Homo sapiens: one gene and its partners. The protein of the gene in region 4 purifies or fractionates together with the protein of the main gene of each other region. This does not show direct contact. Each region holds a gene or a part of one and is shown on either strand. Other genes may lie near its edges. The genes, in order: TRIM56, IMMP2L, PEX14 and PEX1.

Evidence for each region.
Region 1: the proteins of PEX1 (region 4) and TRIM56 purify together in Homo sapiens (affinity purification with mass spectrometry, with the first as the bait; one study listed by BioGRID). This does not show direct contact.
Region 2: the proteins of PEX1 (region 4) and IMMP2L purify together in Homo sapiens (co-immunoprecipitation; one large-scale study listed by IntAct). This does not show direct contact.
Region 3: the proteins of PEX1 (region 4) and PEX14 purify together in Homo sapiens (pull-down; one large-scale study listed by IntAct). This does not show direct contact.

What each region holds. Positions count from the first base shown.
Region 1 is NC_000007.14:101,085,730-101,093,622, reverse strand, and holds part of TRIM56 (E3 ubiquitin-protein ligase TRIM56), read right to left. Parts: intron 6,618-7,893; 5' UTR 6,455-6,617; intron 6,312-6,454; 5' UTR 6,311-6,311; coding exon 4,043-6,310; 3' UTR 1-4,042.
Region 2 is NC_000007.14:111,549,491-111,557,383, forward strand, and holds part of IMMP2L (mitochondrial inner membrane protease subunit 2), read right to left. Parts: intron 1-7,893. UniProt on the Homo sapiens protein: Catalyzes the removal of transit peptides required for the targeting of proteins from the mitochondrial matrix, across the inner membrane, into the inter-membrane space. Known to process the nuclear encoded protein DIABLO.
Region 3 is NC_000001.11:10,479,670-10,487,562, forward strand, and holds part of PEX14 (peroxisomal membrane protein PEX14), read left to right. Parts: intron 1-4,823; exon of another isoform or gene 4,824-5,368; coding exon of another isoform or gene 5,369-5,446; intron 5,447-7,893. UniProt on the Homo sapiens protein: Component of the PEX13-PEX14 docking complex, a translocon channel that specifically mediates the import of peroxisomal cargo proteins bound to PEX5 receptor.
Region 4 is NC_000007.14:92,510,716-92,518,608, forward strand, and holds part of PEX1 (peroxisomal ATPase PEX1), read right to left. Parts: intron 7,541-7,893; coding exon 7,426-7,540; intron 7,328-7,425; coding exon 6,561-7,327; intron 3,253-6,560; coding exon 3,133-3,252; intron 989-3,132; coding exon 865-988; intron 333-864; coding exon 229-332; intron 1-228. UniProt on the Homo sapiens protein: Component of the PEX1-PEX6 AAA ATPase complex, a protein dislocase complex that mediates the ATP-dependent extraction of the PEX5 receptor from peroxisomal membranes, an essential step for PEX5 recycling.

The DNA of each region.
Region 1 (7,893 bases), 8.6 Mb from region 4:
CCTGACCTCAGGTGATCCACCCACCTCAGCCTCCCAAAGTGCTGGGATTACAGGTGTGAGCCACCGCGTCCAGCCTTTCTTTTTTTTTTTTTTAATTATTATTATTTTTTATTTTACTAGTCCTTGCCTGCATACATTTCCTCCAGGGTACAGAGCTTATGTGGTTCTTTGACCAAATACTGTTCTAGTCATTGCATGTATTAGAGACCAAGGCTTTCCTCGTCAAATCAATTCTGCATGGTTTTCCCATCTTCTTGGTTTTCTTTTTTTTTTTTTTTTTTTAATTTTTTATTGATCATTCTTGGGTGTTTCTCGCAGAGGGGGATTTGGCAGGGTCATAGGACAATAGTGGAGGGAAGGTCAGCAGATAAACAAGTGAACAAAGGTCTCTGGTTTTCCTAGGCAGACGACCCTGCGGCCTTCCGCAGTGTTTGTGTCCCTGGGTACTTGAGATTAGGGAGTGGTGATGACTCTTAAGGAGCATGCTGCCTTCAAGCATCTGTTTAACAAAGCACATCTTGCACCGCCCTTAATCCATTTAACCCTGAGTGGACACAGCACATATTTCAGAGAGCACGGGGTTGGGGGTAAGGTCTTAGATTAACAGCATCCCAAGGCAGAAGAATTTTTCTTAGTACAGAACAAAATGAAGTCTCCCATGTCTACTTCTTTCTACACAGACACGGCAACAATCTGATTTCTCTATCTTTTCCCCACCTTTCCCCCTTTTCTATTCCACAAAACCGCCATCGTCATCATGGCCCGTTCTCAATGAGCTGTTGGGTACACCTCCCAGACGGGGTGGTGGCCGGGCAGAGGGGCTCCTCACCTCCCAGACGGGGCGGCCGGGCAGAGGCGACCCCCCACCTCCCGGACGGGACAGCGGCCGGGCGGAGGCGCCCCCCACCTCGCTCCCGGGCGGGGCGGCTGGCCGGGCGGGGACTGATCCCCCACCTCCCTCCCGGAAGGCGCGGCTGGCCGGGCGGGGGCTGACCCCCCACCTCCCTCCCGGACGGCGCGGCTGGCCGGGAGGGGGCTGACCCCCCACCTCCCTCCCGGACGGGGCGGCTGCCGGGCGGAGGGGCTCCTCACTTCTCAGACGGGGCGGCTGCCAGGCGGAGGGGCTCCTCACTTCTCAGACGGGGCGGCTGGGCAGAGACGCTCCTCACCTCCCAGACTGGGTCGCGGCCGGGCAGAGGCGCTCCTCACATCCCAGACGGGGCGGCGGGGCTGAGGTGCTCCCCACATCTCAGATGATGGGCAGCCGGGCAGAGACACTCCTCACTTCCTAGATGGGATGGCGGCCAGGAAGAGGCGCTCCTCACTTCCCAGACTGGGCAGCCGGGCAGAGGGGCTCCTCACATCCCAGACAATGGGCGGCCAGGCAGAGACACTCCGCACTTCCCAGAGGGGGTGGCGGCCGGGCAGAGGCTGTAATCTCGGCACTTTGGGAGGCCAAGGCGGGCGGCTGGGAGGTGGAGGTTGTAGCTAGCCGAGATCACGACACTGCACTCCAGCCTGGGCAACATTGAGCACCGAGTGAACGAGACTCCGTCTGCAATCCCGGCACCTCCGGAGGCCGAGGCTGGCGGATCACTCGCGGTTAGGAGCTGGAGACCAGCCCGGCCAACACAGTGAAACCCCGTCTCCACCAAAAAAATACGAAAACCAGTCAGGCGTGGCGGCGCGCGCCTGCAATCGCAGGCACTCGGCAGGCTGAGGCAGGAGAATCAGGCAGGGAGGTTGCAGTGAGCCGAGATGGCAGCAGTACAGTCCAGCTTCGGCTCGGCATCAGAGGGAGACCGTGACCATGGAAAGAGAGGCAGAGGGAGACCGTGGGGAGAGGGAGAGGGAGAGGGACCTTGGTTTTCTTTCTTTTCTTTTTCTTTTTTTTTGAGATGGAGTTTCATTCTTGTTACCCAGGCTGGAGTGCAATGGTGCGATCTGAGCTCACTGCAACTTCCACCTCCTGGGTTCAAATGATTCTCCTGCCTCAGCCTCCCAAGTAGCTGGGATTACAGACGCCCGCTCCCACGCCTAGCTAATTTTTGTATTTTTAGTAGAGATGGGGTTTCTCCATGTTGGCCAGGCTGGTCTCGAACTCCTGACCTTGAGTGATCCACCCACCCCAGCCTCCCAGAGTGCTGGGATTACAGGCTTGAGTCACCGTGCCTGGCGCTTGGTTTTCTTATAATCTTCATTATTCTTTGCTGTGCCTACCTTTGTAATTTGTAGATAATGGAATGTGTCCACCCGGACTTTGATGATGTCCTGCATTGTTTCAATAAACAAGAAATGGTTTTCCCAGAAAGGGATTTTCTTTTCCCTCTACCTATGCCCTGCACATTCCATCTGGACTTGTCCAAAATCCCTCTGGTTCCCACGAATGCCCCACTGTCCACAGTCCCCACATTAAGACCCCCTTCTGCCATCTCTCAACAGCCCCTGGCTAAAAACATTCTCCAAGCCTACTTGCCCCCTCAATTCTACCACTGCCACCACTTATGAAAAGGTCCGGTGGTCACAGCCCACCTCCGACGGGTTCCTCCCTTCTGGTTTGACACCTCTATCCGTCGCAGCCCCATTGCACCTTCTAGGTTTTCTTGGCACCTCCAAGTTCCACTTGGCCTGCAGGGTTTAGCTGTTTCCCCAGCAATAGTGGCCCACAGAGGACAACCTTCCTTCACCCCCTAGTTCAGCCGAGTGAAGGCCAACATATCTCAAAAGGAATTTTGCTGGAAAATGAAGAGAAGGCAACACATAGACCCTGGGAAATGGAAAGACACCGAAGCAGAAGCGTTGGAGCCTAGAGATTTTTCTATCCTATGTACCTCTTCCCTCAGACTGGCTCCGTGGCTGCGTGGAGGGCTCCCCTGCTCTGACACTCATAACTTGGTATTTATTTATTTATTTATTTATTTATTTATTTATTTATTTTAACACTTGATCTTAGCTGAGAAGTGATGGATAACCTGCTTTTTCTGTTGTTTCTGTTTTTTTTTTTTTTTTTTTTTTTCGAGATGGGGTCTGGAATGCAGTGGTGCGATCATAGCTCACTGCAGACTCAAACTCCTCGGCTCAAGGGATCCTCCCACCTCAGCCTCCTGAGTAGCTACGTTGAAAGGCATATGCTACTACACGCAGCTAATTTTTAATCTTTTGTAGAGATGGGGTCTCGCTATGTTGCCCAGGCTGGTCTCAAACTCCTGGCCTCAAGCAATCCTCCTGCCACAGACTCCCAAAGTGCCGGGATTATAGGCATGAGCCACTGCGCCTGGCAGAGCCTGGTTTTTTTTTAATACTTAATCTTAGCCAAAAGGCTGAGAAGCGATGGAGAATGTGGATTTTTGGACGTGAATTCTGTTGGGTTTGGTTTTCCAGTAGCCTATTCTCTTCGCAGCCTTTGAACCTAACACCTCTTTGGCCCCAGCTGCTGTCTGCACTTGCAGACCCTCCTGCAAGCTCACCCTGTACTACCGCCGGGGGATGCCGTGATCAAGGAGCATCCTGCCTGTGGCTGGCAGAAGAGGCCATTCACTGCCCATTCGAAATCTCAGGCCTCCTCTGACTCTGTAGGACCCTGTGCCAGTCCAAGGGGGGCCGGGGTCTCAGCTCTGTTCCACAGTGCACACGCCTGACCCACCCTGGGCCCTTCTTGGCCCCAAGACTCTCCCTCGGCTACTCTATCAGGAATGGTTTTGAAGAATGCAAAGCAGGACAGGCTCACAAACCTCAGAAACCTAAACTATATAGCAGCGGCGGTGGTGGCAGCAGCCACCCACAAAAAGCAAGAGGCAGGTGAACTCCCAGCATCCCCCTCCACCCACCTGCCTCCTCTGCTTCTGAGAGTTAAGGTCACGCCACCACCTTGGTCCCTATTCTCACACACTAGAAGACGGGTTAGCAGTTTGGCACTCCATGTTGAAAAGTTGCCAACCCCTGCCCTTCAGGAAAATGTCCTCGGCCTCCACCTCCCACGGACAGCTCTGCCTCCTTCCTGCCCTCTCCCTCCCCACTCCCTCTCACCCTAGTCCTAGCCCCTTTAACTGTCCGGAGAACGGACCCGAAAGATGTGGATGGTCCCGTTACTGAGGGACACGACCAGGTACCTGCCATCCACCATGGTGGTAACCCGGGGCTTTTCCAGGCCGTGGTAGGCTGTCAGGAAGTCTCCAAGGAGGGACCCCTTCGGGTCCAGGATCACCACCTTGTTGACTTCTCGAAGGGTCAGAAAGATGTAGCCCTTCTTATCCACAGACACGGAGCCCGGCTGGCAGCCATGCAGGCCTGGCCCCTTGTACTCCCCAACCACCTGGCCCAGCCCATCACAGATTACCACACTATTCTGCTGCCAGTCCGACCCCACGAAATGCCCCTGGGGGCTGGTGGTCAGAAACACCAGCGCCCGCAGGCCCCGGCTGGCCTTGCCTCCAGGAATGAACCGGGTGGCCAGGCTGCCTTCCATATTGTACACCTCCACGTGGCCCGCCACGCTGACAGCCACGCGGTCCCCGCTAGGCAGTGCCGCCACCGCGTGGCTGGCCTGGGAGAGGCTCAGGGCCCTGCGCCACTGCACTTCGCCGTTGGGGTTGATGAGATAGAGCCGTGCGCTAGCGGAGAAGGCCACCGCGCTCTGCAGGGCGGCCACGCTGCAAGGGGAGCAGCCCTCAGGGACCGGCACGGTGCCCTTGTAGTCGCCGTTGAGGGAGAAGCGTTTCAGTGCCCGGTTCTGCTCATCCGCCACCAGGATCTCCCGGGGACCGAAGGGACAGAGCCCGGTGATCCGGGGGGACCGCTTGTCTCCAGGCATCCGCGTGGGGAAACTGCAGTAAAAGATGGGTCTGGGGAGGAGGCCAGAGCCGTCCAGATTCGGCCCCAGGGCTGGGCTGGGCTCCCGGGAAATTGACTTGAGCCTGCCTTTGAACTTTTTCTTCTTGTTGGGTCTGCCACCCCTGTGGGGCTGGGGTCCTCCATCCTCGTGGGGTGTCTGGGCCCTGTCCTCCTCCAAGGTCTGGGCTCCCTCTTCTCGGGTTGTCTGGGCTTTTTCCTCTTTTGGGGTCTGGGCTCCATCTCCAGCCTGGGGCTGGACTCCACCCTGTCTCTCAGTCTTCGGCTCATCCTCCCTCCGGCTCTGGCTCTCCTCACCTCCCTGGGTACCAGCTCCGTCTTTCCCACCATCCTTCTGGGGCTGCTGCTCCTCAAAGGACAGCCGAAGAAGGTGGCAGTTCTTGTCCAGGAGCCCAGGATGGAGCTCCAGCTGTGGGAGCAGGCAGGGGGCCGGGCCTGGTGCCCAGGGGCAGCCCTGCAGCTGCCTGAGCCGCTGTGCGATCGCCCCTTCCAGGGAGAGGATCTCGGCCTCTCGCCCCAGGCTGAGTACCCGGCGGGCGAAGGCGGCTGCGGCCCTGGCCACCTGCTCCCGGCCCTCAAGCTCCGCCAGCCTCTCCCGAGCAGCTTCTTCGGCAGCCTCCACGTGGGCTCGTAGCTGCCCCAGCACCTCCTGCTTCTGGGCCAGCAGGGCCCGGAGGACGCCCTCAGCCGCCTCCTCCACCTGAGTCCCCACCCGGGCCGCCTGCTCCCGCAGCCGGGCTAGCGCCTCCTTCTCCACCCTCCGCGCTGCCTCCAGCTCCACCAGGTTATTGTCCACACCGGCCAGCAGTCCCTCCAGGCCCGGCCTCCGGGCACGCACAGCTTCAGCCAGAGGCAGGCAGGGGTGGTCCAGGTGGGGGTCTAGGCGGCACTCTCTGCACAGCAACTGTGAGCAGGGCTGGCACAGGAAGCGCAGTGCCTCCCCGGGGTGCTGGGGACACTGGGCCGCTTGGCGCTCCCGGGCCTCCTCATCATACCACCCGGCCCTGTAGCCCACCAGGTCCACCACGCGGTGGGTGTGGGTCTGGCGGGTGCAGCGGTGCCCGTCGGCACAGGCCTGGCACAAGTCATCGGCACAGTCCAGGCACCGGGCCGTGGCCGGCCCCCCGGTGCTGGTGCCACCCACCAGGGGACACAGGGCACAGGCTGGCTTCCCGGCACGCAGGTCTCCACAGGCCCGGGCCTTCACCAGGTCCAGCAGCCCATTGACGAAGAAGTTGGTCTTGAAGGAGGCCACACCCTCGGGCGGCACAGGCACTGTCTCGCGGCACTCGGGGCAGCGGACGCGGCCGCCATCCGCCAGCTGTGCCAGGCAGTCTTGGCAGTAGGTATGCAGGCAGGGCAGTGTCTTGGGTGCCCGCAGCTGCTCCAGGCAGATTTTACAGGCCAGGAAGTCGCTGCTCAGGGCCTCCAGGAGGGAGGGCGAGGACCCGTGGGAAACCATGCTGCAGGCAGAGGCGTCAGGATCAGAGTTGAGAAGGCACCTTCACCAGCTCACCCTCTAGCTTCTACCGCCCGTCCTCAAGCCCCACGGATCCCCAGGGCTAGGGGCTGACCCAAATGGCCGGGAAGGAACCTGAGGTCTCACCTGAATGGCCAGGAACTTCCTTCTAGTCTTCTGAGGCCTTGGGCCACTTGCTCTTGAGCTAAGGAGCTGCCCTCCTCCTTCTCCTCCTCCTCCTCCACTTCCGTGTGTACATCCAGCAAACGTAAAAATGTCAGTGCTACTTGTTGGGTCAGACCTGTGAGAACTGACAAGACCAGGAGTCCCTGGCCTTAGCTAATAATCGAATCCTCAGTGTCCCCAGTCCACAGGCCTTGTGGCAAACATGGTGGAAGCCCTCCTGTGTGCACAGGTACTGGGGTCCTGCTGTATAGGGTGCCAGGGTGCGAGGAGCAGGCAGTAAGGACACAGACGGGGATCCCAGTGGGCAGAGATGCCTAGGTCCTGCCAGTTGGGGTAGGATCTTGCAGTAGCTTAGGGGGCTTTAATCCTCCAAGCCCCATACACCTGCCTTCTTTTTATTTTATTTTAGTTTTTAGCAATAGGGTCACCCTCTGTCACCCAGGCTGGAGTGCAGTGGCGTGATCGTAGTTCACTGCAGCCTCAAACTCCTAGACTCAAGTCTTTTGAGTAGTTGGGAGTACAGGCATGTGCCACCATGCCCAGCCTTTTTTTTTTTTTTTTTTTTTTTTGAGACAGAGTCTCACTCTGTTGCCCAGGCTGGAGTGCAGTGGTGCGATCTTGGCTCACTGCCACCTCCACCTGCCAGGTTCAAGTGATTCTCCTGCCTCAGCCTCCCGAGTAGCTGTGATTACAGGTGCGCACCATCACACCCGGCTAATTTTTGTATGTTTAGTAGAAATGGAGTTTGGCCCTATTGGCCAGGCTGGTCTTGAACTCCTGACCTCAGGTGATCCGCCCTCCTCGGTCTCCCAAAGTGCTGGGATTATAGGCGTGAGCCACCATGCCCAGGGGCCCAGCCAGCCCATTTTTTAAAAATTATCACTTTTTGTAGAGATGGGGTCTTGCTATGTTGCCCAGGCTGGTCTCCAACTCCTGGCCTCAGGCTATCCTCCCGTCTCGGCCTTCCCAAAGCATTAGGATTACAGGCATGAGCCACCGCACCCGCCTGGCCTTACACCTGTCTTCTGCTAGACCTGGGGCAGCATCGCGGGTGGTGGAGGCCCCACTTTCTGCATTTAACAGTTTCTAAAGCGGATTCTGGAGCGGGCAGAAAAAACGCTAGGGGAAGGGCTGGTCCCCTTCCCGCTGCTGGCTCACCCTCTGATAGACTTGGCCTTGGCTTATCTCCTGGAGTCCTGTTCTTTTAGCTTTTCCTGCTGAATGCATTCCAGAAACCTCTGGAGGGAGGGAGTCCCGAGCTCCTGGCACAGTGGCTGAGACCTACTTGTTGGGCAGACTAGGTGGAATGTCCCCTTTTCTGGAGCTGGGAGGAGACCTCAGAGAGTGGGACGGGGTCTTTCTTGCGGGGACCTGTGGCCACGGAGCGGGAGGGAGGCGAG
Region 2 (7,893 bases), about 19 Mb from region 4:
GCCTATTTTTTAACTTTTAATATAGAAGTTTTAACTGAATGTTTAGAGTATTAGCATAATGTAGTCATATACATCAGACAGGTCTCAAAAAATCTTCTAATATGTTGTCATAATCCACATACTCAGACTACAGGATGTCTCTTAAACATGAGAAATAGTAAGATTCTGGCCACGTGTGGTGGCTCACACCTGTAATCCCAGCACTTTGGGAGGCCAAGGCAGGTGGATCATCTGAGGTCAGGAGTTCAAGACCAGCCTGGCCAATATAGTGAGACCTCCATCTCTACTAAAAATACAAAGATTAGCCAGACATGGTAACACATGCCTGTAATCCCAGCTACTTGGGAGGCTGAGGCACGAAAATCACTTGAACTTGGGAGGCAGAAGTTGCAGTGAGCCGAGATCACGTCATAGCACTCCAGCCTGGATGACAGAGCGAGACTCCGTGTCAAAAAAAAAAAAAAAAACATAGTGAGACTCATAAAAAGCACAAGCTAATTCATTTATAAACTGATTCAAACTGCCCTCACATAATAACAGTGCTAAATAGTTATTAATATTTAACAAAACTAAATAATAATTATTCAGTATTTAAATCTGACACTAAAAAAAACTCTTATTCAAGCAACTATTAAACAAATAAGCTCCTGGGAAAATACCAAGATCCTTAGTAAATAATCTGCAATACCAATAAAACTAAAAATAAAGGCCAAAAAGGCTACATACTGTATGATTCTAACTCTATGACATTATGGAAAAGGCAAAAACATTGGAGACAGTGAAAAGATCAGAAGTTACCAGGGGTTAGGAGAAGGGAGGGATGAATAAGCACAACCCAAGATTTTTAGGCAGTGAAAATACTCTGTATACTATAAGCATACATACATGGCATTACACATTTGTCCAAACCCACAAAATGCACTACACCAAGAATGAACCCTAATGTAAACAATGAACTTTGGGGGATAATGATGTGTCCATGTAGTTTCATCAATTGTAGCAAACGTACCATTCTGGTGGGGGATGTTGATCATGCAGGAGAGGCTATGCATGTGTGAGGGCAGGGAGTAAATGGGATATCTCTGTACCTTCCATTCAATTTTACTGTGAACCAAAAGACCCTAAAAAAAAGTCTATTTTAAATAAGGCAAAATATCTGCGGCAATCTTAATCTTCTCCTATCAATTATTACTTCACAGGTCCTCTGTTAACTATTTAGTAGAAAGCATCCTTGGCTGTCAATGCTAACCTTCTGCACAGCTCTTATTTACACACACATTGCTCCTCATAACATCTGCTCTGCCCACTGTAGCCTGCTTATCCTCTAATGGTCATCAGTATACTGAGTCCAAAGACAGGGAAGGAGTCAGGTACAAATGAGATGGAGAAGACAGGTAGTGGGGCTAAGGAAGCAAAGAACTGCTAAAGAGGGAAGTCAGCAGATAAATCTGCAGGAGAAAATCTGCAGCAACAAGGAGAAAAGAATCCTGAGTTGATACAAATTTGTTTATTGGTTTACATAATGGGAAAATCATATGAAATGAAATTATCCTAAAATACAAAACATGATGACATTACAAACATTTCCCTTCTTTAAAAAAAAGTCTTTGCTGTATACAATTCCGTAACTAGAACTTGATAATCTGTTTGCAATGTGTCCCCCAGCGACAAGCAAGATGATTTTTCAAAAGTTGACTGTAAATGCTACATTTTTCAAAGGAAAGATATATAAAAGTGTGTGTGACAAAGACCTATGTCTCAGAATAACTTGGAAAAAAGTACAAATATTAAATTTTTATGATTTATTGCCTGAAAGAAAGTTGTACACTTTTATATTCTGGGTATTCTTAATCTAAGAAGTCAAGAACATACTATGTATTACCAAACTGGGCAAGAGTTCAATGAGATTCTGAAAGTTATACCTAACGTACTATGTATTACCAAAAACATACAATATGTTTAGTAACAAATAGTATGTTAGGTATGTTAGGTATGACTGTTAGAGGTGTGTGTGTGTGTGTGTGTGTGTGTGTGTGTGTGTGGTCACTTGCTTGCTTTGGTCATCGGTGAGGAAGCCAGGCTAAGCAACTAACAAAGAGTCCAAATATCTGAGTCATTTATGAGAGGCTAAGGGCTCCAGTGGCAAATCAGGGACCTATAAGACAGGCTCAAAGATGGTTCTGGCAGGATCCACCACCACCATCACTACCACCTCAGCAAAATACAACCTTCTTCATCTGAAGTTTCAGGGAAGCACAAAGGCTCGAGTTCTGCCAGCAGTCCAGCTCAGTAAACACTGATTAAGCACCAGTGAAGTACAAAGCATTAGGTTAAAGGTGATAAAAGACACTGAATAGGAGGAAATATAGCCCCTACTACCTTAAGAATTTTCCAGTAAAAAATATGGTAAGACTATAATCCAGGCAAGGTAGAGCAAGTACTAAAAGAGAAATACAAAGAAGGCATTCAGAGGTTTCCTCAAGGAGATGCTCTAGAATGAAACCTGAGGCTATTACTCAGATGACCAACAAGTTCATGCTATAGCCACTGCTCGTTTATAATTTTCTCCCATTCAATGTACTACTTCTACACCAGAGATGTGAGAAACTTGAAAAAGGCTATTTTGTTCTAGCTGATTATTAAAGGGGGAGAATTCTTGAATATAAAGTAAGATATAAGGTAAAGCAAGCAGGAAAGGATTTGGAGCAAGGTGTGTCATAATGCTAACATGGCACAAAGCAAAATAATTCAACTTCCATTCAGTTTTACTGGTCAAAAGGAATAGCATCATTTTTGTTTTGTTTTGTTTTGTTTTGAGACAGAGTCTCACTCTGTCACCCAGCCTGGAGTGCACGGGCACAATCTCTGCCCACTGCAACTTCCACCTCCAGGGTTCAAGAGATCCTCCTGCCTCAGCCTCCTGAGGACCTGGCATCACAGGCATGTATCATCACACCCGGCTAATTTTTGTATTTTTAGTAGAGACAGAGTTTCACTATGTTGGCCAGGCTGTTCTCAAACTCCTGACCTCAAGTGATCCACCTGCCTCGGCCTCCCAAAGTGCTGGGATTACAGGTGTGAGCCACCATCACTTCTATAACACATTTATATGCTGCTTTAATGGTTTACAAAGGACTCTCACATAAATGCTTACAATGAAACTCAAAGCAATCCTATGTCAGGTAGAGACTGTTATCCTCTCAGAGAGCCTACCCTCACAAGACAGTCCACAATGATCCTTGCCTCATGTCCTTGTGTAATCCACTCCCATACTGAATCAGGGCTGGTCTGTAGAACCAATTGAATACATCTGAAATGATGGTGTATGACTTCCACAGGTAAGTCATAAAGGGCACTGCAGTTTCTACTTTGGCAGCTTGAATCTCGGGAAAGTCATCTGCCATCTCATGAGAATAGTCCCACGGCAAGCCCATTGTGGAAAGGAACCAACCTGCCAACACCAACTGGCCAGCCAAGTGAGTAAGCCACCTTGGAAGTGAATCTTTTAGCTCCAGTGATGCTCCTATAAAACTTCCACTCCTGCTGATATCTGACAGCAACCTCCAGAGAACCAAGCAAGGACCCTCAAATTGCTGACCCACAGCAACCATGAGATAACAAACAATCATTGTTGTTTTCAGCCACTAAGGTTTTCATGTTACAAAACAACAGAGAACCCAATTTTACATATGAGGCTCAGAGAGGTTAATTTACCAATTATCATATAGGAATGAGTAGAGAAAACAGATCTGGAACCCAGTCTTTAGGCTTTAGGTTCAATTTGTCATTAAACAATACCACTTTCTTCTCAACTAAAATAAGGTATAATACTGTAAGGATGATCATTCCTACACGATTATATGACTGATACTAGTATGTCAAGCTTCCTACAGTACAGAGACACAGTATATGTCCCTGCATTCTTAACGAATATAATGGGAATCTCCAAAATAAGTCCATTTGTGGTGCTCCATTGTGCTCTGTGGAGTTGTTACTATTTTCTGGAAAATGGCTATTTTTAATGTGCATATCATGAAAATAAACACTTAACACATTTAGAGAATTTTAATACTAAAATATTACTGACACTGAGACTACACACTTAAATCTTAATTACAATAAGCATCTGTGTAATTTTAAACAATTAGAATATATCAGACAGGAAATGCTCAACTGCTATTTCTTTAAGGTTCTGCATTTTGGCTTTAGGTCTTCAACCTTGTAGCATTACACAAATGTAGTAAAATATATCATCAAAATGCTCGTGATGGTAAAATATTAAATCAAAATCCATAAAGTAGTTCCTATCTTACAGGACAAGGTAGCCAGCTCTTAAGCCTGTCCACTTCTGGAGAAGGTCAAGAGAACATTTTATTGTTATAATCACATCTGCATATAATGTTCCTTCACACAAATCTCCTCTTTTGAGCCATATAACTTTGCAAAACAGGTAGGCAGGACGGGTATACTACCATCCTATTTTTCAATGATGGCCTTAGAGAAGTCTCAGTAACTTAACTAAGGATACGTAACTATTAAAAGGAATTCAAGAATCTAATCTACAATTTTTTAGCTCCAAATCCCAGCCTTTTCTTCTAAGCCATGTTTTAGCCCAGTGGTTCTCCACCCTGACTGCCATGAGGACACCTAAGATGCTTTGAAAATATCACTGCCTGGACCTCATCCCCCAGATACTTGATATAATTGCACTGGTTTGTGTTAGCTGTCTAATATATAATAAACCAGTGTTGGTAAATTCACAGAAAGTTTATATCACAAGGGAGAAAATGCTGATACGTCTATATGTAAACTGAAACATATTAACCCCCTAAGAACTCCCTCAAACACAAAAATATCTTGCAATAAAATCACGCAGAACAAGAAGAAAGGGAAGATGAGAAACCCAAGCCCCTTCTGCTGCTATCGTGGGGCCATTAAGGAATATTTTATTCCCCTAATCTTACTCCCCGAACCTCACCATGCCATATCTCAAGCTATAGCTCAGGTATCACCTTTTGTGAGACCTTCAGGATCACAAAAATAATGAAGTCCATTTTTTGCATCTATCTTACCTTGAACTCTATCATAGCACATATTGTCCCTCAAAGCATTGCTTTATTTTTATTTTATTATTATTATTATTATTATTTGAGATGGAGTCTTGCTCTGTCACCCAGGCTGGAGTGCAGTACCACATTCTCGGCTCACTGCAACCTCCACCTCCTGGGTTCAAGTGATTCTCCTGCCTCAGCCTCTGGGATTACAGGTACATGCCAGCATGCCTGACTAATTTTTGTATTTTTAGTAGAGACGGGGTTTTGCCATATTGGCCAGGCTAGTCTCGAACTCCTGACCTCTGGTGATCCACCCACCTCAGCCTCCCAAAGTACTGGTGCTGCTTTATTTATATATCCATTTTTCTCACTGCCCTGAGGGGTCCTTAACCCATTTATGCTGGAGGTTGCAAATTTTTTTTGTGAAAAATCAGGCCTTGGCGATGACCTTGAGAAGTAGGATATAAATAACTCCCACTAGCTTAGCGCTCCAATAATGGAGCACTAGGCATAAATGCATTAAGATCAGATCCCTATGTTACTCATCCTTCCTGCCATATATATCTTTGTATCCAGGGCCTTTACCATAGCAGATATTAATACATGTTGGCTATGCTGAATGATTTTTATGTTTGTTATCATTATTTCCTCCATTCTCCTAGCAGACACTCCTGTGAAATTTTTCAACTTTTAATAAAGGAAAATGGAGTTTTTACGCACAACTGGATTAGGTTAGAGAATAATGTATGCAAAAGGGCCAGACGTAGTGAGAGCAAGACAGCAGTGAACTGTGGGGCAGGAAAGAATAGAGTAGAAAGGACATTTAAAATTCATATCTGACAGTTGGGGTCAGATATGAATTTTGCAAGCCGGGAAGGAGTAGGCAAACAAAGCGACAACCTAATCTTCATTCACAAAAAAAAAAATATGACAAGCAAGGAATCAGGCAACTGTATTTTCAACATCTCCCTTTCTATGGTGTTTCTAACTCACAGCATACAGACATGTTGTTTCTCTCTCAAAAAATAAAATCTGAAGCAGTGATATGATTTCACTATGTATTTGACTTTTTTTTAAGATTCCACATGTGAGATAATACAATATTTTTCTTTCTGCATTTGGCTTACTTCACTTAGCATAATGTCCCCTAGGTTTACCTATCTTATGGCAAAAAGCAGAATCTATTTCTTTTTTAAGGCTGAATAATATTCCATTCTATATATGTACTGCAGTTTGATTTTCTGTTGTCTTTTGTTGGACAGTTAGGTTGTTTCCATATATTCACACCCATCAAGATGGCTACTACCAAATAAAACAAGAGATAAGTGTTGGCGAGGGTGGGAGAAAAGAGAACCCTTGTATACTATTGGTACAACCATTATGGAAAAAGTAGGGAGGTTCCTAAAGAAATTAAAAATAGAACTACCATTACTTCTATTTTGTACCAATTAGCCATCCCTCTTCTGTGTGCATGTATATATATATATATATACATACCCAAAGAAAATGAAACCGCAACCTTGTAAAGATATCAGTCGGAATTTTTAAAAGCTCTCTAGGGGATTCTAATATGTGTGCATACAGAGATGGAGAATAAAACAGTGATCCCAGGGGAGGGGGAAGGAAATTGAGATGTAGGTCAAAGGACACAAAGTAGCAGCCATGTATAATGAAAGAGTTTGGGAACTCATGTACAGCATCAGTACTATATAATACTGTATTGTATTCCTGACTTTTGCTAAATGAGTAGATTTTAGCTACTCTTGTCATACACACAAAAATGGATAACTATGTAAGATGATGGATGTTACTATGTCTCACTACAGTAACCATTTTACTATTTACATGTATTCCATAACATGTTATTTTCCTTAAATATACACAATAAAATGTATTAAGTAAATACCCTGACTGAAGAACAATTATCTCCTAAGAGGGACCCAAGCATATCTACTCTCTATTCTCATGTCCAGCCCCCTTCAGCCTCATCTCCTATTCAGTCCTTTACCCACAGCACGATAGCTTTACCTCCACCACTACAATGAAACCAGTGACTTCTAACAGTCATTGATGATTGTAACTTTACAATCATCATCATACTTAATGGCCACTCTCCTTCAGCATCTTTACATCTTTCTCTTTTATGGTTTCTCCTTTAAATTTTTACATTCTCTAAGACTAATTTTTAGCCCTTTTCTCTTCTCTTTCTATACAATTCCTCTATGTACTTTTATCCGTATCTATGGATACTTCAGTTACTCTCCATATGGTAAGAACACACAAATCTGTTTCTCCAGCCTTTGCAATCTCTTGTGATGTTCCAGGATCCTATATCCAACTGCCTTCTAGACATCTCACACTTGCCAATGATATGCCCTGCGAGCATGTTAAACACAGGTCCAAAGTTGAACTCATTCTCTTCTCCCTCATACCTTCTTCCTCTTCTCTTTTCCCACTCACAACCCAGAAACCTAGGAAGCATTCTAACATTCTCCCTCTCCCATATCTTTTACATTCAAACAGTCACAAAGACCAGCAAATTCTCCCTCATCTTACTTTTCCTAAACATTCTCACTTCTCTATTCCCACTACTTCCACCTTTATCTAAGCTTTCAACCTCTCTTATCCCTACTGATGTACTGTCCTTGAAAGCTTCCAGTCTTGCCATGACCCCACACCCAACCCCACTCTACCCTCAATCTACCCAGCACACTGCTTTCAGTGATCTTCCATGACACTCACAATTCTTCAGTGGCTCACTACTACACATGGTATAAGAAGTGTACCCTGAACTGGCTATCCAGTTTCATCTAGGAAGTGTACCCTGAACTGGCTAACC
Region 3 (7,893 bases), on a different chromosome or scaffold from region 4:
CATTGAGAGGCTACAGAAGCAGGCAGGGAGAAGAGCAGAGTGAAAGAGTGGAAGAGCATGGCTTCGCATCCTGGCAGGTTTTGGTGGAACTTCATCACTCACAACTATTGGACTTATCACTCCACCTTTCTGAGTATGTTTTCTCCTCTGTAAAACGAGAGCAATAATAGTTACCCTTAAAGCTGGGTGTGGTGGTGCATGTCTGTAGTTCCAGCTACTCAGGAGACTGAGGCTGGAGGATTGCTTGAGCCCAGGAGTTGGAGTCTGTAGTGCACGATGATCACATATGTGAATAAACCCCTGTACTCCAGCCTGGGCAACAGAGTGCAACCCTATCACTTAAAAAATAAATAAATAAAATAAAAAATAATTACCCTTTTAGTGTTGACTGAAATCACAGATGTGAAGAGCACCTGCTGCATAGTAAGTGCTCAGAGTTAGTTTTCTTCTCCCAGTCTTTACATGTAGTTTTGAGAGTCTGTTGAACTCTTGAATAACAGCAGGTCAGACAAGGTATTTGCCCTCTCAATGTTTTTTTTTTTTGTTTTGTTTTGTTTTTGAGATGGAGTCTCCCTCTGTTGCCCAGGCTGGAGTACAGTGGCTCAATCTCGGCTCACTGCAACCTCAGCCTCCCAGGTTCAAGCGGTTCTCCTGCTTCACCTGCCTCAGCCTCCTGAGTAGCTGAGACTACAGGTGTGTGCCACTACGCCTGGCTAACTTTTTTTTTTTTTTTTTTTTTTTTGAGACGGAGTCTTGCTCTGTCTCCCGATCTGGAGTACAGTGGCACAATCTCGGCTCACTGCAACCTCTGCCTCCTGGGTTCAAGCGATTCTCCTGTCTCAGCCTCCTGAGTAGCTGGGACTACAGGTGCCCGCCACCATGCCCAGCTAATTTTTTTGTATTTTTAGTAGAGATGGGGTTTTGCCATGTTGGCCAGGCTAGTCTTGAATGCTTGACCTCAGGTGATCCACCTGCCTCGGCCTCCCACAGTGTTGGGATTACAGGTGTGAGCCTGGCACCTGGCCTCAACTTTTTATTTTGAAAAATTTCTCACGTATAGAAAAGTTGAAAGGATAATACTGAGAACTTCTGTAAAATTCCCATAAAAACTTAACCAAGATGCACTGTTCACATTTTGCTGAATTTGCTTTATGTCAGTCTCTCTCTCTCTTTCTCTCTCTCTCTCTCTCTATATATATATTTTTTTTTTTGGAAGGATTTGTGGTAAGTTACAGACATCAAGGATATTTCATCCTAGAATATTTCACCTTATCTCTCATAAGAGTAAGGTTATTCCCCTGTATAACCACAATATCATTATCACACAAGAAATTTAAGTGTTGATAAATAGTATTATTTAAAACAGAATCTGCACTCAAATTTTCACACTTAAAAAAAATCAGAATCTAGTGAAGAAACAGAGATTGCATTGATTTGTCTCTTTAGTCTTTTTTTTTTTTCCTTTCCTTCCTTTTTTTTTTTGTTTGAGACAGAGTCTTGCTCTGTTGCCCAGGCTGGAGTGCAGTGGTGCAATCTTGGCTCACTACAACCTCCGCTTCCTGGGTTCAAGCAATTCTCCTGTCTCAGCTTCCCAAGTAGCTGGAATTACAGGTGCCCGCCACCATGCCTGGCTAATTTTTTTGTATTTTTAATAGAGACAGGGTTTTGCCATGTTGGCCGGGATGGTCTCGAACCCCTGACCTCAAGTGATCCACCCACCTCGGCCTCCCACAGTGCTGGGAGCCACCGCGTCCAGCCTTAAACTTTGTTTGTTTGTTTGTTTGTTTTTTGAGACAGGGTCTTACTCTGTCACCCAGTCTGGAGTGGAGAGGTGTTATCACAGCTCACTGTAGCCTTGACCTCCTGGGTTCAAGTGATCCTCCAGCCTCAGCCTCCCGAGTAGCTGGGACTATAGTCATGCACTATGATGCCCAGCTAATTATTTTTTGTAGAGGTCGGGTCTCGCTGTGTCGCCCAGGCTGGTCTTGAACTCCTGACCTCAAGTGAGCCTCCCACCTCAGTCTCCCAGGCTTCTTTTACTTAACACATATTTTTGAGATTCATTCATGATGAGAACAGTGACAGTTTATTATCACTGCTTTATACAGTTATTGTATGAATGTGTTTGGCCATTTATTATTAACCATTCTACTCTTTTTTTTTTTTTTTTTTGAGACAATGCCTGGCTCTGTTGCCCAGGCTGGAGTGCAGTGGTACGATTTCGGCTCACTGCAAACTGCTTCCCAGGCTCAAGCCATCCTCCTACCTCAGCTCCCCTGGTAGCTGGGACCACAGGCGCATGCCACCACACCTGGCTAATTATTTTTGTATTTTTTGTAGAGACGGGGTTTTGCCATGTTGCCCAGGCTGGTCTTGAACTCCTGAGCTCAACCAGTCTGCCCGTCTGGGCCTCCCAAAGTGCTGAGATTACCAGTGTGAGTGACCACATCTGGCCACCATTCTACTTTTTGTTTTTTGAGACTGAGTCTTGCTCTATCACCCAGGCTGGAGTGCAGTGGCATGATCTTGGCTCACTGCAACCTCTGCCTCCCAGGTTCAAGTGATTCTTCTGCCTCAGCCTCCTGAGTAACTGGGATTATAGGCACTGGCCACCATGCCTGGCTAATTTTTGTGTTTTTAGTAGAGACGGGGGATTCACCATGTTGGCCGGGCTGGTCTCGAACTCCTGACCTCAAGTGATCCACCTACCTTGGCCTCCCAAAGTGGTGGGATTATAGGCGTGAGCCCCTGCGGGTGGCCCATCTTACTTTTTTTTTTTTTTTTGAAATGGAGTCTCGCTCTGTCACCGGCTGGAGTGCAGTGGCGCAATCTCAGCTCACTGCAACCTCCGTCTCCCGGGTTCAGGTGATTCTTCTGCCTCAGCCTCCCAAGTAGCTGGGACTACAGGCATGTGCCACCATGCCCGGCTAATTTTTGTATTTTTAGTAGAGATGGGGTTTCTTCATGTTGGCCAGGATGGTCTCGATGTCTTGACCTCATGATCCACCTGCCTTGGCCTCCCAAAGTGCTGGGATTACAAGCATGAGCCACCGTGCCTGGCCTGAGCCATTCTACTTTTAATGGACATTAGATTGTTTCACCTTTAGGGTCATTACAAATAGTACTGCTGTGAAAATACCTGTACGTGTCTTTTTGTGAACATAATATGTGCATTTCTGGTGAGTTCATCTACGTTTTTTATTTTTTATGGTATTGACATGTTTGGAGAGTCTGGACTACTTGTTTTGTGAAATGTTCCACCATCTGGATTTGTCTGATTTGTTCCCTTACATTTAGATCCGGGTTAAACATTCTTTTGTGAGAATATTATGTAAGTGACGTTGTGTCTATCTGTGTATCATATCTGGAGGAACGAGTCCCATTGTCGAAGATGAAGTTTGATTGTTTGGTTAAGGTGGTGTCTATCACATTTCTCCATCATAAAGTTAACTTGCTAAATTAGTTGCTTTCTTTGCAACTTTGCTAGTATTGTTTTAAATTTTTGAGACAGGGTCTCACTCTGTCACCCTGGCTGGAGTGCAGTGGCACAGTCATGGCTCGCTGCAGTCGTGACCTCCTGGGCTCAAGTGATCCTCCTGCCTTGGCCTCCCAAAGTGCTAGGATTACAGGTGTGAACATGGCCAAGTTTTTCTTTTTTTCTTTCTTGAGATGGAGTCTTGCTCTGTCTCCAGGGTGGAGTGCAGTGGTATGATCTCGGCTTACTGCAATCTCCACTTCCCAGGTTCAAGCGATTCTCCCCCCTCAGCCTCCGGAGTAGCTGGGACTGCAGGTGTGCACCACCATGCCTGGCTAACTTTTTATATTTCAGTAGAGACGGGGTTTCACTATGTTGGCCAGGATGGTCTCAATCTCCTGACCTCATGATCCACCCGCCTCGGCCCCCCAAAGTGCTGGGATTATAGGCGTGAGCCACTGCGCCTGGCCTGGCCAAGTTTTTTTTTAGTATTTTAGTTTAATATTGTATTGACTGACAAAGTCTTATGGCCTAAACTTTACTGTGGAATTCTAATAGGTGTGTTGTGATCAGTTTGAGTTTTGACAAATTGTATATACGTGTGTAACCACTACCACCCTAAACCTGTGTAACCACCACTGCCACAAGCAAGATCAACAGTTTCAGTATCCCTAAACGTTCCCTTACGCCCCTTCCCATTGAATCCTTGCCTGTGGTCCTAGGAAATCTGAACTGTTTTCTATTACTATAGAGTATATTTGTCCCTCCTAGAATTTCATATGAATGAATTATGTATTCTTTTATGTCTTTTTTGGCTCAGAATAATGTTTGTGAAATTTATTTGTGTTATGGTATGTATCAGTAATTATCAGTAATGAATTACCTTTTTTTTTTTTTTTTTGAGATGGTATTTCGCTCTTGTTGCCCAGGTTGAAGTGAAGTGGCTCAGTCTTGGCTCACTGCAACCCCTGCCTCCTGGGTTCAAGAGATTCCCCTGCCCCAGCCTTCCAGTAGCTGGGATTACAGGCGCCCACCACCATGGCCGGCTAATTGGCTAATTTTTTTGAATTTTTAGTAGAGACAAGGTTTCACCATGTTGGCCAGAGTGGTCTTGAACCCCTGACCTCAAATGATTTGCCCACCTCGGCCTCCCAAAGTGCTGGGATTACATGTGTGAGTCACTGCGTCCAGCCAATTTTTTTTTGTTTAGTAGAGATGGGGTTTCACTGTGTTGGTCAGGCTGGTCTCCAACTCCTGACCTCATGTGATCCAACTGCCTTGGCCTCCCAATGTGTTGGGATTACAGGCGTGAGCCACTGCGCCTGACCATGAATTACTTTTTACCGCTGAGTAGTATTCCATCGTATGGATGGCTATATCTCAATTTGTTGATCTGTTCACCAGTTGATGGACATTTGTAGTAGTTTTTGATTCCTGCGTAACAGTATTACCACAAATTTAGCCGCTTGGCACAGCACACATTGATTATCTCATGGTTTCTGTGGGTCAGGAGTCAGGAAACCACTGGGCTGAGTCTCACCAGGCTACTATTGAGAAATCTGTCAGGACTGTGGTCGCTGACTAGGGAGGGGTCTGCTTCCTAGCTTGTGTGGTTGTTGGTGGCATTCAGTTCCTTATGGACCATGAGACTGGAGACTTTAGTGTGTTACTGTCAGCCAGCGGCCGCCCTCAGTTTCTTGCCAAATGAGTCTTCCCACTTGCCTCCTCAAAGCCAGCAGAAGAGAGAGTCTCTTAGTAAAGTGGACATTACCACGACGTATCTCACCCACATTAATGCAGTCACGTACATGCTGTCACCTTTGCCATATTGTGTTGGCCAGAAGCAAGTAACAGATCCTGGCCACATTTGAGTAGAAGGAACAGCACAGGGGCATGGATACCAGGAGGTGGGGATCATGGGGTCACCTTAGAGTCTGTTCCCCACAGGATTCCTTCTCATTCTGGGCTACTGTGAGTATTTGTGTATGTGTAAGTGTTTGCGAGGACATATTCTTCATTTTTCTGGGGAAATAACCTGTAAGTGGAATGGTAGGCTTATGTAGTAAGTATGTTTAGCTTTGTAAGAAACTGTCTAAATTGTCTAAATGTTTTTAGCCATTCTGGTGAGTGTGTAGTGTTATTTATTTGTGTGTGGTTTTTTTTTTTTTTTTTTTTTTTTAAGAGACAGGGTCTTTTTTGTCTTTGTCGCCCAAGCTGGAGTGCAGTGGTGCAATCATACATAGCTCACTGTAATCTCCAAGTCCTGGGCTCAAGTGATCCTCCAGCCTCAGCCTCCTGAGTAGCTAAGACTCAGGTGCATGCCACCATGCCCAGCTAATTATTTTTTGAATTTTTGTAGCGAGGGGGTCTTGCTGTGTTGCGCAGGCTGGTCTTGAACTTCTGGACTTGAGTAGCCCTCCTACCTCTGCCTCCCAAAGTGCTGGAAGTACAGGCATGAACCACAGGGCCGAGCCTAAATATTTTTTTGTTTTCAGGATACTGTTATATTTATGGATTTTATTTTTTAATTATTCAATGCTACTATGTAGAAATAAAATTGAATTTTATATATTGGTCTTGTATCTGCAACCTTGTTAACTTATAATTCTAGTAGTTTTTTTTTTTTTTTGAGACAGACTCATGCTGTGTCACCCAGGCTGGAGTGCAGTGGCGTGATCTTGGCGCACTGCAACCCCCGCCTCCTGGGTTCAAGCGATTCTCCTGTCTCAGACTCCCTAGTAGCTGAGATTGCAGACGCCCGCCACCACGCCTGGCTAATTTTTTTGTATTTTTAGTAGAGACGGGGTTTCACCATGTTGGCCAGGCTGGTCTTGAACTCCTGACCTCAGGTGATCTGCCTGCCCCAGCCTCCCAAAGTGCTGGGATTACAGGTGTGAGCCACCGTGCCCGGCCTCTAGTAGCTTTTTTGTACATTCCTTGTGATTTCTCTATAGATGATGGTATCATCTGCAAATAAAGACAGCTTTACTTCTTACCTTCCCATTAATATGCTTTTAATTTTTCTTGCTTTATTGCACTGTCTAGGACTTTGAGTGCAATGTTAAAAGTAACAGTGGAAGTGGATGTCCTTGCTTTGTTCCCCATTTTGGGGGAAATATTTTTAGTCTTCTACAGTTAAGTGTTAGCTATAGGTATTTTGTAATAGGTGCCTTTGTCAAGTTGAAGAAATTCAACCTTCATTTTTAGTTTGCTGAGTTTTTTTTTTTTTTTTTTTTAATCATATGTGTTTTGAGGCCAGGCACAGTGGCTCACGCCTGTAATCCCAGCACTTTGGGAGGCTGAAGCAGGAGGACTGCTTGAGGCCAGGAGTTCGAGACCAGCCTGGGCAACATAGCGAGGCTCTGTCTCTATACAAATTTTTAAAAAATGAGTCTGACATGGTGGCACATACCTGGAGTTCTAGCTACTCGGGAGGCTGAGGCAGGAGGATGACTTGAGCCCTGGATTTCCAGCTTACAATGAGCTATGTCACACCACTGCACTACAGGCACTACAGGCTGGCTGAAAGATGGAGACTCTGTCTCTTTTTTTTTTTTTTTTGAGACAGACTCTTGCTCTGTCACCCAGGCTGGAGTGCAGTGGCGCGATCTCGGCTCACTGCAACCTCCGCCTCCTGGGTTCAAGCGATTCTCTGCCTCAGCCTCCTGAGTAGCTGGGATTACAAGCATCCACCGCCATGCTTGGCTAATTTTTTTGTGTTTTTAGTAGAGATGGGGTTTCACCATCTTGGCCAGGCTGGTCTTGAACTCCTGACCCTGTGATCTGCCCACCTTGGCCTCCCAAAGTGCTGGGATTACAGGCGTGAGCCATTGCACCCAGCCTGAGGCTCTGTCTCTTAAAAAAAAAAAATTATTTTTGAATGTTGTCAGGTGCTCTTTTTTGTCTCTATTGAGTTGATCCTTTTGTTTGCTTCCTTTCTTTTATTAATATGGTGATTTATGTTGATTGATTTTTGAAATGTTAAACCAATTTTTTATTCATTGGATAAATTCTACTCGATGTGTTATGCTTTTTATATATAGCTGGACTCAATAGTATTTCGTTAAGGATTTTAACATTTATGTTTGTGAGGGATATTATTCTATAGTTTTTTTGTATGTGGATGTGTAAAATCTTTGGTTTTTATGTCAAGATAGTACTGGCCTCATGGAGTGAGTTTGGCAGTTTTTTTTTTTTTGTATTCTTTGAAACAGTTTATATAAGATTGCCATTATTTCTTCCTTAAATGTTTGATAGTATTTACCAGTAAAGCCATCTGGACGTAGAGTTTTCTTTTTAAGTTTTAATTATATACTTTATTACTTTTTCTTTCTTTCTTTTTTTTTTTTTTTTTTTTTTGAGACGGAGTCTTGCCCTATCGCCAGGCTGGAGTGCAGTGGCGTGATCTCAGCTCACTG
Region 4 (7,893 bases):
AACTTAATTGTGCTAAGGCATTCATTTTTAAATTTAGGTTAAGTCAATAATTTGTACAGATAATTTAAAGAGATTACAGAATAAAATATTTTAAATCAAGTTATTCCTTACTCTTAGCAGGTTTTTAATACACTTCACAATGCAAGGTGTTACAAGGAACTTCATACTTTATTATCAATCATATGTAACAAATAGTATTTTATTAAATATTCAATAACATGCTATTACTTGTATTGTAGTCTTCTGCAGCAAATTGGGACTCAACAGAAAAATATTTTTATCTTTTTCTTTTTCCCAAGAATGAACTATACTCAGAGAAAATTCCTTCAGTCCTATTAAAAAGAAAGTAATAAATGCAGAGTTAGTACTGAAACAGAGATGAAATAATTTAAGATTTTAAATGTCAAATTTATTTAAGTTAAAGACTTTTTTTTTTTTCCCCCCAACAGGGTCTCACTCTGCTGCCCAGGCTGGAGTGCAGTGGCAGGAACACAGACCTCCTGGGCTCAAGTGATCCTTCTGCCTCAGCCTCCCAAGTAGCTGGGACTACAGGCATACACCACTATGTCAGGCTAATTTTTGTATTTTTTTGTATAGATAGGGTTGCGCCATGTTGGCAGGCTGCTCTCGAACTCCTGGCCTCAAGTGATCCGCCTGCCTCGGCCTCCCAAAGTGCTGGGATTACAGGCATGAGCCACTGCACCCGGCCAAAGATATTTTTCAATACATAAAAACTACTGTTTAATTATCATAATTATATTTCACTATTCACATACTGTTCACAGGTATGACAGGTTGCAAGAACAATTAAAAATGTACAACTATTTAAATAGAAAAAAAAGTCAAAATAACAAATGTACTCACCATCTTTAGTTTCCAGCTTAATAAATTCTTCCTCTGATATTACCAAAGGAAGCATGGTGGTAGTAGACTGCTGTAGCCATGAATAAAATACAGTTTTTATGTCTTCTTCACTTATGTCTTTAGGCTGCCAGAAAAAGGAATAGTAATGAATTATCCTCATATCTGAACTTAACTTTAACACCCTTATTTTAACATCTGATCTTCCTAATAAAGTGTAAGCCTGACCAAACAAATCCAATGAAGGATGTTCATGTTCTATAGGCACAGGTCTGGGATTTGACATTACAGTTAGCACAATGAGTGCAGTGTAGCCTGAAGAAACATCTGTTAGGCGGAAAAGTTTTAAATGCTCCTTTTCTCTATGCCCAGTGATACATCTACCATAATGTGGCTCACTCAATAACCATTCCAACCCCATTCTCCCTTTCCTCCCTCTACGATAAAGACAGGAAAACAAATTCCTTTTTCTTTGAGACAGAATCTCGCTGTATCGCCCAGGCTGGAGTGCAGTGGCGCAGTCTCCACTCACTGCAACCTCTGCCTCCCGGGTTCAAGCGATTCGCTTGCCTCAGGCTCCCAAGTAGCTGGGATTATAGACATTGCAGCTAATTTTTGTATTTTTGGTAGACATGGGGTTTCACCATGTTGGCCAGGCTGGTCTCAAACTCCTGGCCTCAGGTGATCCGCCTGCCTTGGCCTTCCAAAGTGCTGGGATTACTGGCATGAGCCACCACGTCTGGCCTAATAATCTATTTAAAAAAATTTTTTTTGAGATATTGCCTAGGCTGGAGTGCAGTGGCACAATCATAGCTCACTGCAGTGTGGAACTCCTGGGCTCAAGAGATCCTCCCACTTCAGTCAGCCTCCTGAGTAGCTAGGACTACAGGCATGTGCCACCACATGTGTCTAATTTTTATTTTTACTTTTTTTGAAATAGAGTCTCGCTCTGTTACCCAGGCTGGAGTGCAGTGGTGAGATCTAGGCTCACTGCAACTTCCACCTCCTCAGTTCAAGTGGTTCTCCTGCCTCAGCCTCCTGAGTAGCTGAGATTACAGGATTAGCACCACGCCCCGATAATTTTGGTATTTTTAGTAGAGATGGGGTTTCACCATGTTGGCCAGGCTGGTCTCCAACTCCTGACCTCAAGTGATCCACCCATCTCAGCCTCCCGAAGTGTTGGGATAACAGGCGTGAGCTACCACGCCTGGCTTAATTTTTTTTTTAATTTTTTTGTAGAGATGGGGTCTTGCTATGTTGCCCAGGCTATTCTCAAACTCTTGGCCTCAAGCAATCCTCCCACCTCAGCTTCCCAAAGTGCTAGGATTACAGGTGTGAGCCACTGGACCCCACCTGCAAAGATCTTTAAGTTCAATATCTCATTTCCTGACTCTACCAGTATCCAAAGAATTAACTGAGTAAAAAGTAAAACAGTCTAGCACTCTTTTAGGCTACAATATTAATACTGAAACAACATGGGACAATTTTTTTTAATTACAACCACGTGGCAAAATGATCAATCTCTTAAAAGCCAAAAATATTCATATTTGCATTGGCAAATATAAGTATTTGTGTTATCATTTATTAAAGATTTCTCAGCTTCTCAAAAAGTTAAACATAATTCCTAGGTATATCCCAAAGGAGCTGAAAAGAGGAACTCAAACAGATACTTGTACACCAATGTTCACTGTAGCATTATTCACAGCAGCCAAAAATGTGGAAACAACCCAAGTGTCCATCAACAGATGAATGGATAAACAAATGTGGTATATGCAGTCAATGGAATAGTATTCAGCCATGAAAAGGAATAACATTCTGATACATACAACACAGATGAGCCTTGAAAACATTATGTTAAATGAAATAAGTCAGATACATAAGACAAATGCATACTTCTACTTATATATGAAATATCTAGAATAAGTAAATTCATAGAGACACAATATACATTAGAGATTACCAGGGACTGGGGAAAGGAGTGGACGGGGAATTATTGTTTAATGGGTACCAAGTTTCTCTTTGGGGTGATGGAAAAGTTCTGGATATAGATAGTGGTGATGGTTGTACAATATTATGAATGTAATTAATGCCTTTGAATTATACACTTAAAAATGGCGAACATGGCATATTTTATGTTATATATAGTTTAACACAATAAAAAAAGATTTGTATCAAAAAGGAATACAACATTCTTATTACTTAGCTAAAGCAACTAGAAATCTTACAAAACGTGTAAAAGAATTTTGATGTAACATATATATTTGAACTCACTAAATTCTCTCTAGGTTGTAACTTTAGAGATCTTGGAATTTTAGGGGTAACTTCCACTGGAGTTATCCTGACTACGGCATGCATTTCTATATTTAGTCTCTTCCTCAGGTCATCTGGAATCTGAAATTTAAAAATAAACAAAAATATAAATATATTCAAAGCTTGGTTAAGAAATATTTCATAGCATAAATATTGATATATTAGCTTCTATGAATTTAGGTGAAATAACAGAAGCTATCATAATAACTCATAGTTGTCTCAGTCCATGCAGGCTGCTATATCAAAATATCCTAAACTGGGTGGCTAACAAACGACAGAAACTTATTTCTCACAGTTCTCTTTTATAAGAGCACGAATCCCATTCATGAAGGCTTCACCTTCATGACCTAATCACTTCCCAAAGACCACACCTCCTAATACGATCACCTTGGGAGTTGGGATTTCGACATATGAATTTGAGGAGGACAAAACATTCAAATACCAACGGTGTGACCAGATGGATGTTCAGATATTGTTATACCATGAACATTTCAATCCTCTCCCTACATTTCTTTCCTTTTCTTTACATAATCTTCAGAATTAGAGCTTTAAATGTATGTATTTGACTGTATTCACCAAACCCATCTTTTAAACTATGGCACATTTACATTCAAATTAAATGTTATTTCTAATCTTTGAGCAGCCTTTATTTGTGAAAGTTAACAACCAATGAAGAAGCTGGAATGGCCAAAACTAATCACAGACAATCTGCCTGATTGTCTGATTAAATGATTAGATCCAGACAGAAACTTAATCTAAAAAGCAGAGTAAAATTTCTCCCACCCCCTAATGAAAATGTTCTAAACTTAGATTGTGGTGATGGCTGTACAACTAGTATAAATATACTAAAAATGACTGAATTGTACACTTTAAATTTTACCTCAGCCGGGCGCAGTGGCTCACGCCTGTAATCCCAGCACTTTGGGAGGCCGAGGTGGGCGGATCACAAGGTCAGGAGTTTGAGACCAGCGTGGCCAATATGGTGAAACCTCGTCTCTACTAAAACTACAAAAATTAGCCAGGCGTGGTGGTGGGAGCCTGTATCCTAGCTACTCGGGAGGCTGAGGCAAGAGAATCGCTTGAACCTGGGAGGCAGAGCTTGCATTGAGTGGAGATCGCCACCACACTCCGGCCTGGGCGACAGAGTGAGACTCCGTCTCAAGAAAAAAAAAAAAATTATCTATATATATATATATATATATATATATATATATATATATATATATATATATATATCAATAATGATGTTAAAAATTTTTCTCAACTTCCCAAATATAAGTAAGCACTGAAAGACATAAAGACGACTTTACTCTCTATTAACTTCTAAAGAGCAGGTGCAGACATATTAATGGTAGACAAAAGCATAAATAAAAACTCTAAGGTACATATTCTGACTTAAAGAGAATTTAACAATCAAGTTTCCTGTTTGTTTGTTGTTTTTTTTTAATCACCATGCTTCACAGGGTAATAAAGGTTCAAGTTAACATGAATTTGTTAGTTGTATCACCAAGTGATCAATTTTGATCTCTCAAGCCAAGTCCATTTTAGTACCTGATTTCACCTACTGTGACTTCTCATTGTCCATGGCTCTTCAACCTTCAGTGGAGTGGGAAGGGCGGAGTCCTTATTGCTATCTTAATCACAGGACTTTACCATCAGCACTTCTCCCTGTTCTCACCATATAATTTCAAGGAAATAAAAGGATATTCCCATCTAATGACAGAACCAGCTAAATCATAAGCTCAGTGTTAGATATTTTGAATTTGAGGATGCAGTGGGATCTCCTGAACGGACAGTTTAAAGCTAACAGAAAATAATGATCTGAGGCCAGGCACAGTGGCTCACGCCTGTAATCCCAGCACCTTGGGAGACTGAGGCAGGCGGATCACTTGAGACCAGGAGTTCAAGACTAGCCTGGCCAACATGGTGAAACCTCGTCCCTACTAAAAATACAAAAATTAGCCAGGAGTGGTGGCGCACACTTGTAGTCCCAGCTACTCTGAAGGCTGAGGCAGGAGAATCATTTGAACCTGGGAGGTGGAGGTTGTAGTGAGTGGAGGTGGTGCCACTGCACTCCAGCCTGGGCAACAAAGCAAGCTTCTAACTCAAAAAAAGAAAAGAAAAGAGAAGAGAAGAGAAGAGAAGAGAAGAGAAGAGAAGAGAAGAGAAAAAAGAAAAGAAAAGAAAAGAAAAGAAAAGAAAAGAAAAGAAAAGAAAAGAAAAGAATGGTCTGGAGCTTTAGAAAATGATGTAGGCCGGCCAGGAGCAGTGGCTCATGCCTGTAATCCCAGCACTTTGGGAGGCCGAGGCAGGCAGATCACCTGAGGTCAGGAGTTCCAGACCAGGCTGGCTAACATGGTGAAACCCAGTTTCTACTAAAAATACAAAAAATTAGCCAGGCGTGGTGGTGCATGCCTGTAGTCCCAGCTACTCAGGAGGCTGAGGCAGGAGAACCACTTGAACGTGGGAGGCGGAGGTTGCAGTGAGCCAGATCATGCCACTGCACTCCAGCTTGGGCAAGAAGAGTGAAACTCCATCTTGTGGAAAAAAAAAATAGAAAAGAAAATGATGTAGGCCAAAGAGATTAATGCTTTGTCAGTTATTTGTATAAAGGTCACAGGTAAAACTGTTGGAGAAAAAAAAAAAATCTACAAAAGGAGACAACCTTCTCTTTCTATTTTATTCTCTTTCCTAACAAGTTCCTCTCTTTATCACTATGAAGTCTTACTTTACAGTGGTTCAAATTTAGGTTCCAATAAATGGACTAGTGACTTATGTCATATAAAGGTAGCATTAATATTTGTGGCCAGGATGAGGGGCTGGAGCACTAGTTGCCCTGTCTACTTCCTCTCCGTTATACACAAATTAAAGAGCAGACACCGGCAGGGTAAGCAGCTCCTGGATGCATTCCAATCCAGGTGCCACCACATGCAGCAGGAAGGTTACCTCATGCCATGGATCTCTCCCTACACTGGCCCTTTTCCCTAATATTAACAAGTTGCTTTCGGTAACTGGGGAACAAATCTGCAAGCATTAAAGATGGGAGGCTTTGTAGGGCACTCCATCCTGATGAACCCCCAAGTCAATCTGCCTGGGTTTGAATCCTAGTTGTAACACTAGCTATGCAATCTCAGGCAAGTAATTTTGACCTCTCTGGCCTGAACCTATCTAAGCTTGTACCTATTCAAGCTTACTTGGCCAGAAAACATACAATCTTTATCCAAACAAGGACTTTACTGCAAAGCGTAAATGTGTCCCCCAAGTGCCTTTAGGCACTGTGTTTCTTTTTAATTGATTTTCAATTTATATATGAAATACTATTCTAATTCATAATTTGGGGATGTTTAAGCCACATAAAATTTCTCCCAAGTTATAAAATTTATACTAACCCAGACTTTCCCAAGATGGAGAACTTCTACATTTTTGGTATATTTGATGGCATTGTTCAATTCTTCAAGTCCATTCCAGACTACTTGTAGCACACAGGCCTTCTCATCTTCTTCATTATGATCTGACCTAATTTTTTTTTGATCTAGTGGCTCTGACATCTGCTTCTCTTTTTCAGGTGATAACACATTTTGTTTTGTTTTACTTTGCTGTTGCTTTGGAGAAAGTAGCTTAACTAGCTTTCCATATGTCACAGTAAAGCTGGGCTCTACATCAAAATATTCCTGGTCCCATGGAAATACATGAATGGCACAGTGTTTATGAAAAACAGAGGTTGCTGACGCGTTATATATACTAGGAGGTTGAGATTTGCATACTCTGAAAATATTGTCTAGAGGAACAACCTTTGACTGCATATTTTTGAATGCATTGATTTCAGTTAAACCCCAAGATGTCTCTTGTTTCTTCTCAGATTGAAAGGAAAAAATGCTTCCTATCATAGTCCATAAACTTGCTACTGATGATGAGTCAACTGGAATCTCTGACTCGTTTTCATTAGATTCAGTGATTCCCACAGTATTTGACTGAAGTTGCTTGGTTTGAAGTTCTTTCATCATTCCTTTCTGGTCTCTTCCATAACTATGAAGTTTTTTATATTCAGCATCAGCTTTTGAAAATGTATTCTCTTTGGCTCGGCGTGTCTTTGGCTGAATAAGGAGTTTGGTGTCAGTTTCCAGCCTTCCATAAGAGGCAGCTGGTATTAGTGCAACTGTGTAGAAAATAAAGCTCATTAGTGCACATTCATTTCTACTTTGGACTCAATGCTATAGTGTAGAATATGACAGCAAATATTACAATAGCACCTACCAATTTGGATAAATATGTACGTTTGTTGATCAACCCAAACAGGAAAAATGGCTTTTGGAAAAACTATTCGAATTTGATCTAGAAGATGTTGTTCAAGGGAAACAGCATGCAGCTCCTAGAACCAACAGACGAAAAGATCAATTCACTTTACATTTTGTCCACTCCATATCTAGTTAAAAAAAATCTCAATTCTTTTTTTAAAAAACAAATTTTAATGTGCATATTTAATATACACGACATGGTGTTATGAGCTACATATAGATAGTATAATGGTTACTATAGTGAAGTAAATTAACATATACATCATCTCACAGTTACCCACTTTTGTGTTTTTGTGGTAAGAGTAGTTAAAATCTACTCATTTAACATGAATCCCCAATACAATTTTATTACCTATAGTTGTCAGGTTGTACATTAGATCTCTATCAATTCATTCTTTTTTTATTTGAGACAAGGTCTCACTCTGTT